3 separate regions of the Homo sapiens genome follow, and all the other regions are linked to region 3. Evidence: fine-mapped expression QTL. A gene starts in region 3. Each other region holds a variant in brackets. All regions are shown on one strand. Distances are from middle to middle. Region 1 overlaps SYNRG (synergin gamma). Region 2 overlaps TADA2A (transcriptional adaptor 2A). Region 3 holds the start of TADA2A (transcriptional adaptor 2A).

Evidence for each region. PIP is the estimated chance that this variant, and not a neighbour inherited with it, causes the effect. A credible set is the group of variants that fine-mapping cannot tell apart.
Region 1: its variant is the best candidate, but not a certain one, in a credible set for the expression of TADA2A in fibroblasts (GTEx, PIP 0.57).
Region 2: its variant is the best candidate, but not a certain one, in a credible set for the expression of TADA2A in prostate (GTEx, PIP 0.59).

The regions. Positions count from the first base shown.
Region 1 is chr17:37,530,343-37,534,583 of GRCh38, reverse strand. The region is part of intron 19 of SYNRG (synergin gamma); the gene reads left to right. Among named protein-coding and RNA genes, the nearest start is that of DUSP14, 43 kb to the right of the region's middle. The variant C/T (reference allele first, on the strand shown) is at 2,185.
Region 2 is chr17:37,447,405-37,451,645 of GRCh38, reverse strand. All of the region lies in intron 8 of TADA2A (transcriptional adaptor 2A), which reads right to left. Among named protein-coding and RNA genes, the nearest start is that of DUSP14, 40 kb to the left of the region's middle. The variant A/G (reference allele first, on the strand shown) is at 2,533.
Region 3 is chr17:37,405,006-37,409,246 of GRCh38, reverse strand. TADA2A (transcriptional adaptor 2A) reads right to left here and starts at 2,361. Exons shown (of 16, transcript NM_001166105.3): 1 at 2,298-2,361. ACACA (acetyl-CoA carboxylase alpha) reads left to right here and starts at 2,411. Exons shown (of 56, transcript NM_198834.3): 1 at 2,411-2,985. The coding sequence starts at 2,948. RefSeq lists an enhancer at 545-1,229.

The DNA of each region.
Region 1 (4,241 bases), 130 kb before region 3:
AGATAAAATTATGTTTACTTGGTGATAATGAAATTCTTTTAAAAATCTAAATTCAAGCAGCCAGGTGCAGTGGCTCACCCCTGTCATGCCAGCACTTTGGGGAGGCTGAGGTGGGCGGATCACCTGAGCCCAGGAGTTTGAGACCAGCCTGAGCAACATGTCAAAACTCCGTCTCTACCAAAAATACAAAAATTAACCAGTCTCATAACCCGGTCTATAGATAGATAGATAGATAAAAAAATATTTTTTAATCTAAATTCAGGAGTTTAAATGTATTGCATTTGGCAAAAATTCATAACAATCCTACATATTATTAGTAGTTAGAAAATATGATGAAATTAGGCTGGGCATGGTGGCTCATGCCTGAATCCCAGCACTTTGGGAGGCCAAGGCGGGCAGAACAATTGAGGCCAGGAGTTCGAGACCAGCCTGGCCAAAATGGTGAAACCCCATCTCTACTAAAAATACAAAAAAAAAAAAAATTAGCTGGCCATGGTAGCGGGTGCCTGTAATCCCCACTACTCAGGAGGCTGAGGCAGGAGAATTGCTTGAACCCGGGAAATGGAGGTTGTAGTAAGCTGAGATCGTGCCACTGCATTCCAGCCTAGGTGACAGAGCAAGACTCTGTCTCAAAAAAAAAAAAAAAAAAAAAAAAAAGAAAAGAAAATGAAGTTTAGAAACCTTATTTTTTTTGTTAGAAAATATAACGAAGGCCTTAGTGGCTGATGCCTGTAATCCCAGCACTTTGGGAGGCCGAGGTGGGTGGATCACCTGAGGTCGGGAGTTCGAAACCAGCCTGACCAACCCCGTCTGTACTAAAAATACAAAATTAGCTGGGTGTGGTGGTGCATGCCTGTAATCCCAGCTACTTGGGAGGCTGTGGCAGGAGAATTGCTTGAACCCAGGAGTCGGAGGTTGCAGTGAGCTGAGATCACACCACTGCCCTCCAGCCTGGGCAACAGGAGTGAATCTCTGTCTCAAAAAAAAAAAAAAAAGAAAAAGAAAAGAAAGAAAATATAATGAAATTAGAAATCTTTTTTAAAAAAATTATTAACTAATTCAAGCCCTTATCACTTTTGAACTTCTGACCTCATAGCTAGGGTTACTGGTTCCATTTTTTTTTTAATCTCCTAGCAATCTATTCTGCACACCTCTACCAGACTGTTTTGTTTTTTTTTTTCCCCAGACAGAGTCTCACTCTGTCACCCAGGCTGGAGGGAAGTGGTGTGATCTCGGCTCACTGCAACCTCCACCTCCTGGGTTCAAGCGATTCTCACGCCTCAGCCTACTGAGTAGCTGGGATTACAGGCATGCGCCACCACGCCCAGCTAATTTTTATATTTTTGGTAGAGACGGGGTCTCGCCATTTTGGCCAGGCTGGTCTCAAACTCCTGGCCTCAAGTGATCCACCCACCTTGGCCTCCCAAAAGTGTTGGGATTATAGGCATGAACCACTGTGCCTGGCCTTGATACGAATATCAGAAAGAAATTTCTTCTGTGGGTTCTCATAAAGAGGAAACTAATATAATCAACATTGCCTTCAAAAAAAAAGAGAAATCCTTTCAGTAAATAAAGCAACAGTTTTCATTGGGTAGTTTCTTATTACATTTCTCAATATAGGCCAAATGGCATAACTCCAAAGTATGAGTGGAAGTCATTTTAAGTGTGGAAAAAATAGATTAAATTGTAAACTAGGAGGTGTAGTAGTGCATACAGATGGCAGGCTCATGTCTTTGCTCTGTAAAGGAAGCATACAAATCAATGAGAAATATACCAACATCCCAGTAACGTATGAGCAAAAACGTGAAGTGATTCATAAAAGGGGAGGTACAATTAATCAGTAAACATAAATTCAAATTAAAACAAGGTTTCATTTTTTACCTACTAATTTTTTTTTTTTTTTTTTTTTTTTGAGACAGATCTCACTCTGTCACTCAGGCTGGAGTGCAATGGTGCAATCTCGGCTCACTGCAACCTCCGCCTCCCAGATTAAAGCAATTCTCATGCCTCAGCCTCCCAAGTAGTTGGGATTACAGGTGCGTGCCACCACGCCCAGCTAGTTTTTGTATTTTTAGTAGAGACAGGGTTTCACCCTGTTGGCCAGGCTGGTCTCGAACTCCTGGCCTCAAGTAATTCACCCACCTCTGCCTCCCAAAGTGCTAGAGGCATTACAGGTATGAGCCA[C/T]CATGCCCGGCCTGCCTACTAATTAAGCCCAATTTTTGTATGGTCTGTTTGTATGAATACTAATAGTGTTGATGTGGTAAAATGTGGACTACATACTGTAGGATGGAATCACCTATGGAAAGAGAAGTTTGGCACCATGCTTTCTCCCTGACTGTGAACTTCTTGAAGACAGAGATCAAGACTGTGTTTTTCATCTTTTCTTCTTTATCTGAGCACAGTGCCAGGCACTATGTAAACATTCAGTAAACACTCAGTAAACGTTGAATGAATTAAAGGACTTAATATGCATTCAGAGTAGCTGACTCAGTAATTCCAAATCTGAGAAAATATCCTAAGGCAGCGATTCTAAATATGAATTCACAGAAAGAAGCAAATTAAGTGCACAAAGTTGTTCTTTGTAAACGTGAAAAATTAGAGACAACCTGAAAGTCCAAATCTAGAGGATTGGTTAAGTAAATTGTGGTGAATCTTTAGCCCAGGATCTTACGCAGCCATTTTGTAAAGGAGCACGAAGTTTGAATGACACAGAAGTGTTACTACAGGGCTTGAAGGAAATCTGCCAAAATGATATTAGGGATGTGTCTGGGTGATGAGACACTGGATTTTTTTTTTTTTCTTTTTTAGACAGGGTCTCCCTCTGTCACCCATGCTGGAGCACAATGACGTGATCACAGTTCACAGCAGCCTTGACCTCCTGGGCTCTAGCAATTCTCCCACCTCAGCCTCCTGAGTAGCTGGGACCACAGGTGCACACCACCAAGCCCAGCCAATGTTTTTGTATTTTTTGTAAAGACAGGGTTTTGCCATGTTGCTCAGGCTGGTCTCAAACTCCGTGGGCTCAAGGAATCCATTCACCTCGGCCTCCCAAAGTACTGGGATTACAGGCATGAGCCACTGTGTCCAGCCAAAACACTGGATTTTTAAATATTCTTTTAGTTTTTTCATTTTTTTCAACTTTCTTTCAATAGCATTTGTTGCATTTATAATGGAAAAACAAGTGTTTTTACTCTGGTAGGAGAAATGTGTCATTACCCTCCATTCACTTGCACAAACCCTCCCTGTAGATAGCCCTTGTTACCCTTGCCCACTTCTCCTTTCCGTTGTAGTGATAGATTATGAAGTTCTCAAAACTGAATTTTATTTATTTACCTGTTTGTTCATTGTTTAGAGACAGGGTCTCACACTGTCACCCAGGCTGGAGTGCAGTGGCACAATCACGGCTCACTACAGCCTTGAACTCCCAGGCTCAAGTGATCCTTCCATCTCAACCTCCCACAGCTGGGACTACAGGCATGCACCACCATGCCTGGCTTGGTAGGAATAGGGCCTCACTATGTTGCCCAGGCTTGTCTCAAACTCTTGACCTCAAGCAGTCTTCTTACCTCAACCTCCCAAAGGGCTGGGATTACAGGTGTGAGCCACCACGCCCAGACTACTTTAGGGACTTTAATTGCAGTAAATCTGCATGGCAACCTGACATCTTTACCCTGCCGTCATCCTTTCCTGAAGCAGAGGAGAATCATGCCCAAGCTACCAGACATTTTTTGTCCTGACAGTCCACCTGACTAAGGAGGACTATAGTACCACACATCACTGCCCCTAAAAGGCAGCTGAATCAGAATATTGCGAACAGAAGCTGGGGAGAAGGAATGGGGGTAGTTTACTACTTATCCTCTATTTCTCTATTTACATTCAGAGAGGCAGAATTCTTGGGGTCTGAATGAGAGTCTTCCAGTTCTGTCCTTAATGGATTGGTTAACTGTTATGATGACTAATCCAAGGAACTTGGGAGAAAAAGCACGTGTTTACTGCAGTCCTCCAATTTTCTTTGAGCTTCTGGAATTCAGTTCATTATCCTCTGGATCAGAGAAATGCATTAAACTCTGCATTTACTTCCTGAGCTCCAGCTACTAATGAAATTGATTCGCTAGTGATATGTGCCGAGGGTGCCTGTGAAGCTGTGGGGTAGAGAAGGATGTGTCACCATTTGTGAACCTGGAGATCAGTATGTGTCTGTGTCTTTCCTAATTCACCCACCTGCTGCTTCCTGACCTTGT
Region 2 (4,241 bases), 42 kb before region 3:
AGGAGTGATTTAATTTTTAAAAAAGGCCAGGCATGGTGGCTCACACCTGTAATCCCAGCACTTTGAGAAACTGAGGTGGGCAGATGGGTTGAGCTTAGGAGTTCGAGACCAGCCTGGGCAACATAGTGAAACCCTGTCTCTACAAAAATGTACCAAAAATATAGCCAGACATGGTGGTATGTGCCTGTAGTCCCAGCTACTTGGGAGGCTGAGGTGGGAGGATTGCTATAGCCTGGGAGGCAGAGGCTGTGGTGAGCTAAGATTGCACCACTGCACTCCAACCTGGGCTACAGAGGGCGTCTCAAAAAAAAAAAAAAAGCCAAAAAACAAAAAAACCTGTAATCCCAGACTTTGGGAGGCTGAGGTGGGAGGATCGCTTGAGGCCAGGAGTTTTGAGACCAGCCTGGGTAACACATTGAGATTCTGTCTCTACAAAAATTTTTTTTATAAATTAGCCAAGTGTGGTGGCGTGTGCCTGTTGTCCTAGCTACTTGTGAGGCTAAGGCGGAAGGATCATTTGAGCCCAGGAATTCAAGGCTACAGTGAGCTAAAGATTGTACCACTGCATTCCATCCTGGGCAACAGAATGAGACTCTGTTTCTTTTAAAAAAAAAAGCCTCTGAATAAATACTGCTGATAATTGGTACTACAGTTTGATCACTTCAGTAGTTTAAACTTGTACAACTGGCTCTGGAGAACAAAAGGAAGAAAAGAAACACATAGGAGCAAATGGGAGGAGAACTGGAATTCTCCCAGATAAAAATTCATATTTGAAGCTATCTCTGAGCACACTCAGCAGCAACTGAATACAATATCTTAACTGTATGAATAACCTAGGGAGGACAACAGCACAGCAGGCAGAACAGAAATGAGAAGGCAGAATCTACAAGAATGAGAATCACTTGCTCACAGTCTACTTAAAGCAGCTGGAAGCTGCAGTATAAGCTAGCAAACAGAGAACCAGAGATCATTAAAAATAAACAAACAAACCAAAATCACCTGTAATTTGTCCATTGCTACAAGGCCCCTGAAATCTCAGCTTTGGGGGAAGCACAGTCTCCCTGTGATTACACTGGAGAATGATAAAGTTTCCAAACGGCTAGCCTTAAAATATTTCAAGAAGTGGGCAGAAGTCAGAGGCAGCTCCTTCCCACTGCAATGTATTTCTAACATTGTTCAAAATAGCTAACAACATGTTTCTGTTTTCTTGACAGAAGGCACTTACTGCTTGCTTGGCAAGAAAACCAACTCAGAGGCCTTAACTGCAGGGAGGCCAATCAAAATCCCTACTGCGACCAAACAAGTAGAAACCTGTGACACAGGTATTCCCCAGAAGCAACACTATTTAAGTCATTTCCCCCCAAGCTTTTGGCCAAGATGCACACAAACAATTTTGTGCAGGGAAGATCATGTGATCTAATGGCTAAAGTAAGCAACCAGGAAGCATTAGGCCAAGCTTATCCAACCTGTCGCTCGTGAGTCACATGCAGCCCAGGACGGCTTTGAATGCAGCGCAATACAAATTCGTAAACTTTTTTAAGACATTATGAGTTTGTTTGTTTTTTATTCCTTAGCTCATCAGCTATCGTTAATGTATTTTATGTGTGGCCCAGGACACTTCTTCTTCCAGTGTGGGCCAGGGAAGCCAAAAGATTGACACCCCTGGATTAGGCAAATTACTTAACTTCTTTGTCTGCTTCCCTGAATGTAAAACAGGAAAATATCTATTCCTCAGGAATGTGTTGAAGCTATAGAAGATAACAAATGTGAAACCTCACAAAAATGAAACAGCAACAAACATTCAAGGTTGAGCCTGAGCAACATAGTGAGACCCTGTCTCTACAAAAAAATTTTAAAAATTAGCCAGGTGTGATGGTGCACGCCTGGAGTCCCAGCTACTCAGGTAGCTGAGGTGGGAGGATAGTTTGAGCCCAGGAGGTTGAGGCTGCAGTGAGCCATGATTGTGCCACTGCACTCCAGCATGGGCAACAGGGCGTGACCCTGTCTCAAAAAAAAAAAAAAAAAATCAAGATTGTAAAGACAGCTAAGTATTGTACAGTATTAAGAACACAGACTTGGGGATGACTCTACCTCTTGCTGGCTGTATGATCTCAGGCAAGTTATCTAACCTTTCTATGCTTCAATGTCCTCATCCACAAAAATGAGGATAATAATAATATGCAACTCATAAGGTTTTGAGGATTAAATGACTTAATATATATGAAGAGCTTAGAATGGTAACTAATAGTAAATGCTATATGTATTAGCAATTATTACTGATAGTATTCATGTCTAAAATATCCTATGTATAAAACAGTGAAATCAGGCCGGGCACGGTGGCTCACGCCTGTAATCCCAGCACTTTGGGAGGCTGAGGCGGGTGGACCATGAGGTCAGGAGATCGAGACTATCCTGGCTAACATGGTGAAACCCCGTCTCTACTAAAAAATACAAAAAATTAGCCAGGCATGGTGGCGGGTGCCTGTAGTCCCAGCTACTCGGGAGGCTGAGGCAGGAGAATGGCGTGAACCC[A/G]GGAGGCGGAGCTTGCAGCGAGCCAAGATCGCGCCACTGCACTCCAGCCTAGGCGATAGAGCGAGACTCCGTCTCAAAAAAAATAAAAAAAAAAAACAGTGAAATCACTATAAGTGAAAGGAACTGCCAGTAGGTGAATATACAGAGACCAGGCTGGACCTCTGCTCTACTAATTGTTAAAGGATTTAAAGGCTAATAATATGTGCCAAAGAAATACAATTTGAAAAATACAGTGAAAGGTGAAGGGGTCCACAGATCCAAGCCTAGGAGAGAAAACTTTCTAAAATTACCTTTCCAGAACAGAGGGAGAAGAAATTGTGAACTGTACTAAGGTGCAACCCTGAGAAGTACTGGAAACACAGACCCAACACATAGGAGGAGCTCATCATATCTCTTGCTTGCCTGGGTTATGGGGCAACAATGACTTGGAAGACATTACAACCAGGACTTTAGGATCCTGAGAAACTCAGGGAAAGAGTACTCTAAAAATTTAGGAAGAATTTTTACAAATGAAAGGAGATGGGGAAAGAGATGGCAGCAAGAAGGAACTACACTAAGCATGTGCATTGAGATCTCACAACATACATGAGACAAGACAGTTCTAAGATATGAGTCTTCTCTCTCTCTCTTTCTGAACCAAACATTTCTGCTTATTTCAATAAAATATGAGTAAGTACCAATTAGGGATCACGGAACTTCCTTATTTTTCCTTGGATACTGCTTCACTTGCAGTATACATTTGAAATACATTCTGAAAGCCTTCTGGTATGGCTGCAATACAATTATCCCTCCATTGTGTCCCAGGTCTCTATAATGAACCATGCAAACCAAATTTATTAAACAAATTCCATGATTCAAGGCAAAAATCTTTGTGTGGGTGAGGAAAAGGTCTTGGTGGCATCAGCCAATATTCTGGATAGGTTCTAAATACAAAACCCAGCCAAACAGTCTGCAACCTTCCAGTAGTTCTAAATGAGGAACCATAAAAATAATGTTGTTAATGCTCAGTAATATTAAGAGCATAATGGTATAATGGAATGGTAACAACACAAATCTGAATTATGTACCATGTTTCATTAGAGACATTTACACTCTGACTAATCAGTGTCACCTCTTCTTTAATGGCAGAGGACATAAAGAAACAGCAAGCAAGATTCCAAGCACTTACTCATGATTATACCATGACTCAGAAGCAAGCCAGAGGCTGAATCAGTGTCCTGATTTCTACAAAATCTGTGCCCCTCTAACTGTTCCAGGTGTGCTTATAAAGCCCCTTTTCATTCCTTCCTGACTTTCCATGGGCTCCTAGTGCACTTCACTGAGTGTTCTGCGAGTGACAGCTCAGGGACAATATGCTCCTGGACATGGTCATGCTGCCACAGGAGCTGCTGTAAAGACTCAGAGCTGTAAACAAAATACCTCTCTGTGGCATGAGCAAGTCATTCCTTTGGTCTGTAGTGCTGACAAGCTTCTTTAAACTGTTATCATCTTTTTTATTTTTTAGAGGTGGGGGGTCTCACTTTGTTGTCTAGGCTGACCTTGAATTCCTGGGCTCAAGAAATCCTCCCACTTTGGCCTCCCAAAGTGTTAGGATTACAGGTGTGAGCCAACCATACCCAAATCTGAAGTGTTATCATCTTTTTAAAAGCATTCATTTAGGGCCGGACGCGGTGGCTAACCCCTGTAATCCCAGCACTTTGGGAGGCAGA
Region 3 (4,241 bases):
TGGCGTGGTGGCGGGCGCCTATAATCCCAGCTACTCGGGAGGCTGAGGCATGAGAGTTGCTTGAACCAGGCAGGTGGAGGTTGCAGTGAGCCGAGATTGTGCCACTGCACTCCAGCCTGGGCGACAGTGCAAGATCCTGTCTCAAAAATAAATAATAAATAAGTGAAAGCAGAGACTATATCGGATACCTATCTGTATGCTTTTAAAATGCCAAGCATACAGGAGGAATACAATAAACACATAGTAGTGGACTAATAAATGTTAATTCTACAAAAGGTTAATTTATCTTTAGCTTTTCTGAAGTGATTTTTTTCACCCTGGTAATTTTTAGCTTGGAGAATAATTCATCACTAAGTGTGGGCAACATTTCTGCTAACGCTGCCATCAAAGAACTTTCCCTTTTTGGGGTGGGGTAGGTCTCCCTTTGCTGTCCTCTCAGGAAAAGTTGAGCTCTGAAGAAAAATGAGTCTAGCAAGGGTGTATTACGAACGCAGCAATCAAATAACTGCCAAATTTACTGAACTTTTTCAATTTGCTAGGTACCCGTGGGTACCAAGGTGTGGGGATTCTTTGAATCCTCACTCCCACACTTTTGGGGCAAGCTGCTTTTTCAAAAGCAAGCAAGCTCTGAAAGAGTATGTTACTTGCGCAGTGTCTTACAAGGGATAGCTGTGTCATTTCAAATACAGATGTCAAGGCTGGACGCAGTGGCTCACGCCTGTAATCCCAGCACTTTAGCAGGCCGAGGCAGGCAGATCACCTGAAGTCGGCAGTTCGAGATCAGCCTGACCAACATGTAGAAACCCTGTCTCTACTAAAAATACAAAATTAGCTGGGCGTGGTGGCGTATGCCTGTAATCCAGCTACTTGGGAGGCTGAGGCAAGAGAACTGCTTGAACCCGGGAGGTGGAGGTTGCGGTGGGCTGAGAACGCGCTGTTGCACTCTGGCCTGAGCAACAAGTGTGAAACTCCCTCTCAAAAAACAAAAACAAAAACAGACGTCCAGTAAAGGATGCACAGTCAATAGGGACTGATCAACACTCGAAAAAGCACAGTAGGAGGCCGGGTGCGGTGGCTCACGCCTGTAATCTCAGCACTTTGGGAGTCCCAGGTGGGCAGATAACCTGAGGTCAGGAGTTCGAGATCAACCTGGCCAACACAGCGAAACCCCATCTCTACTAAAAATACAAAAAATAGCCAGGTGTGGTGGCGGGCGCCTGTAATCCCAGGTACTCGGGAGGCTGAGGCAGGAGAATCGCTTGAACCTGGGAGGCAGAAGTTGCAGTGTGTTGAGATGGCGCCATTGCACTCCAGCCTGGGCGAAAGAAACGCCATCTCAAAAAATAAAAAAATAGTAGGGCCGGGCGTGGTGGCTCACGCCTGTAATCCCAGCACTTTGGGAGGCCGAGGCGGAAGGATCACTTGAGGTCAGGAGTTCGAGACCAGCCTGGCCAACATGGTGAAACCCCACCTCTGCTGAAAATACAAATATTAGCTGGGCGTGGTGGCCCACGCCTCAGGCACGAGAATCGCTTGAGCCTGGGAGGCGGAGATTGCAGTGAGCCGCGATCGTGCCACTGCACTGCAGTACAGCCTAGGAGAAAAAAAAAAAAAGGCAAAAAAGCACAATATTGCAGTCTGCAGAATCTTCTTTCTCCCCCTTTCACAAGAGACCACATTCTGACACCAACTTCCGTGGAAACACTGGCGCTAGCTCCAAACTAACAATCGCCAAATTCGAATCAGTTACCGGGAGAAGGAAGTGAGGCACTTCGCCGGGCAGGAGTCCACGTTGGGAGGAGGAAAGGCGCAGGCTCCCGAGTTGTGGAGCCAACGTTCAAATCCTTACGGGGTGGGACCGGCCTGGGCCAGTCATTTTACCTGCGCCTCAGCTCTAACAGGGTACTGAAATACCTACTTTGGGGGGCCTGCTAGGAAATTCAAATGGGCAACGCTGGTCAGGGGCATCTGGCACAGTGGCCATTCTTGGTAGAGCTACGCGCTCCAGGGCTGAGCGGGAAATGGCGAGGCCGGGGCACTGGGGCACCGCCCAGACGCGGGGCGGGCCCCCGGGGTCAGGCCCGGCCCCACACCGCCCTCCCCCACAGAGCGGCGAGGCCCGCCGCTGCCCGCCCGCCGGCCCGCCAGCCTGCCGCGTCAAGCCCGCCGCCGGGGCCCGCAGCCCGCGACTCCTCCCCCGCCGCACCTCGTGGCCCCCGCTTCTCCCTAGTCCCGCTAGAGGGGCTCGCGCTCCGCCACCCGCCCGCCCGCCCGCCCAGCGCTGCCTGGCGCCTCACCTCGCCGAGACCCCCTAATCCGCGCCAAAGAGCCGCCGGTCGCGCGCGCCTCCGGGCTTTGCGTGCGCGCCCCCGGGCGGCGCAGTGGCGAGCGCGCCGCGTGCCGCGCGCCCGCCGCCTCCGCCCCTCGGCCGTGGAGGCCCCCGCCGGGTGCTGAGCGCCCGCCACCGCCCTCTTGGCCTTTTCCCGGTCCCCGCCGCGCGCCTGCTGCTGTCCCCGTGCCCGAGGACTGGGAGGATGGGGCTGAGCCGCTTGCCTGACTTTTGATCCGACCAGTAATCACTTTGCCCGTGTGGCGCGTGGCCCGTTGCCTGAGGCTTCCTGGCGCGTGGGGCTGTTTGGTCCCCTCCGGAGTGCGGTGAGGCGGGCCGAGCCGGGACTGCCTGGGTTTGGGGATAACGTTCCCATCTCCACCCCTGTTGCAGCAAGGGAAATTGAGGCTGAGGGAACTGGGCCCAGGGACGGCGAGCCGTGGCGCCTCTCCAGTCCGGGCCCCGAAGGGCTGCTCGTGGATGAACCAGACTGATTTTAAGGGGTGAAGAGGGTGCGTTTCAATCAGATGCTCCTGGAACGTCGAAATTGTCTTCTTTGGAAAGAACCATCCCCTCTTTGGGCTTCAGAGGCCCAAATTGAGGCGCAATGATGAGAGGATGTGGTGGTCTACTCTGATGTCAATCTTGAGGGCTAGGTATGTCCCAAGATCTCTTATTACTGCTGTTAATGATGATTCTAATAGCTACCATTTGTCGAGTACTTATTGCATGCCAGACATTGCACAAAGCAGGTTACACATACGGTCTCATTTAAAACTTGTGAGGTAGGCACCTGTTGTTATCCCTATTTTCCAGGTGAAGAAATCTAGGCACTGACATAAATAACTTGGGATCACACTGCTAGGAAGTACTGGGGAAGGGAATTCAAACCATGGTTTATCTGAACTATATAACTGTTACATCTATTTAGAAGTCTGCCTTTGATAAATTTGCCCAACCTTTTTTTAGAATTCACTTACACTTTATGCCTGTGTGAACCCTTTCATTCTTTTTTGGTATATGCATAATACAAGTTCATTCCAAAAAAAAAAAAAAAAAAAAGCCCTGCCGGGCGCGGTGGCTCACGCCTGTAATTCCAGCACTTTGGCAGGCCGAGGCGGGCGGATCACAGGGTCTGGAGTTCTAGACCAGCCTGACCAACATGGTGAAATCCCGTCTCTACTAAAAATACAAAAAATTACGCGGGTGTGGTGGCAGGCACCTGTAATCCCAGCTACTCCGGAGGCTGAGGCAGTAGAATCGCTTGAACCCTGGGGGCAGAGGTTACAATGAGCCAAGATCTTGCCATTCCACTCCAGCCTGGGCAACGAGAGCGAAACTCTGTCTCAAAAAGAAAAGAAAAGGAAAGAAAAACCACCTCCCACCAGGTTAAATAAATAATTAACATTTTGGTATGTACCCTTCCAGACATTTTCCTATGCATCACATCAATAAATATATGATAGGATATTTTACATTTGATGTATCCTGAAGATTAATTCAACAAATGTTTAGTGAGTAGGCTTGTTGTAGGTGCTGGGAATTCAGCAGTGAACAAAACAAAGTCTCTGCCTCATGGAGCTCATATTATAGTAGGGAAGACTGTCAATAAGCAATATACACATTACTAAATGATAGATAATGCCCAGTAATGTGGCAAGTTTTATGGAAAAATAAATCAGGATAAAAGGATAAGAGTGATATGGGGATTCTCTTAGTTAGGGTAGATAAGGAAGGCCTCTTAGCTAAGGAGGCACATAAATATCTGATCATTTAATGAGAGAAGGAGCAACATGGATTTCTAGAGGGAAACTATCCTAGAAGAGAAGCAGCAAGTGCAGTGACCCTGAAATGGGGATTTGTTTGGCATGGAGAAAGGGCAAGACCAGTGTGGCTGGAGCACAGCAAATGA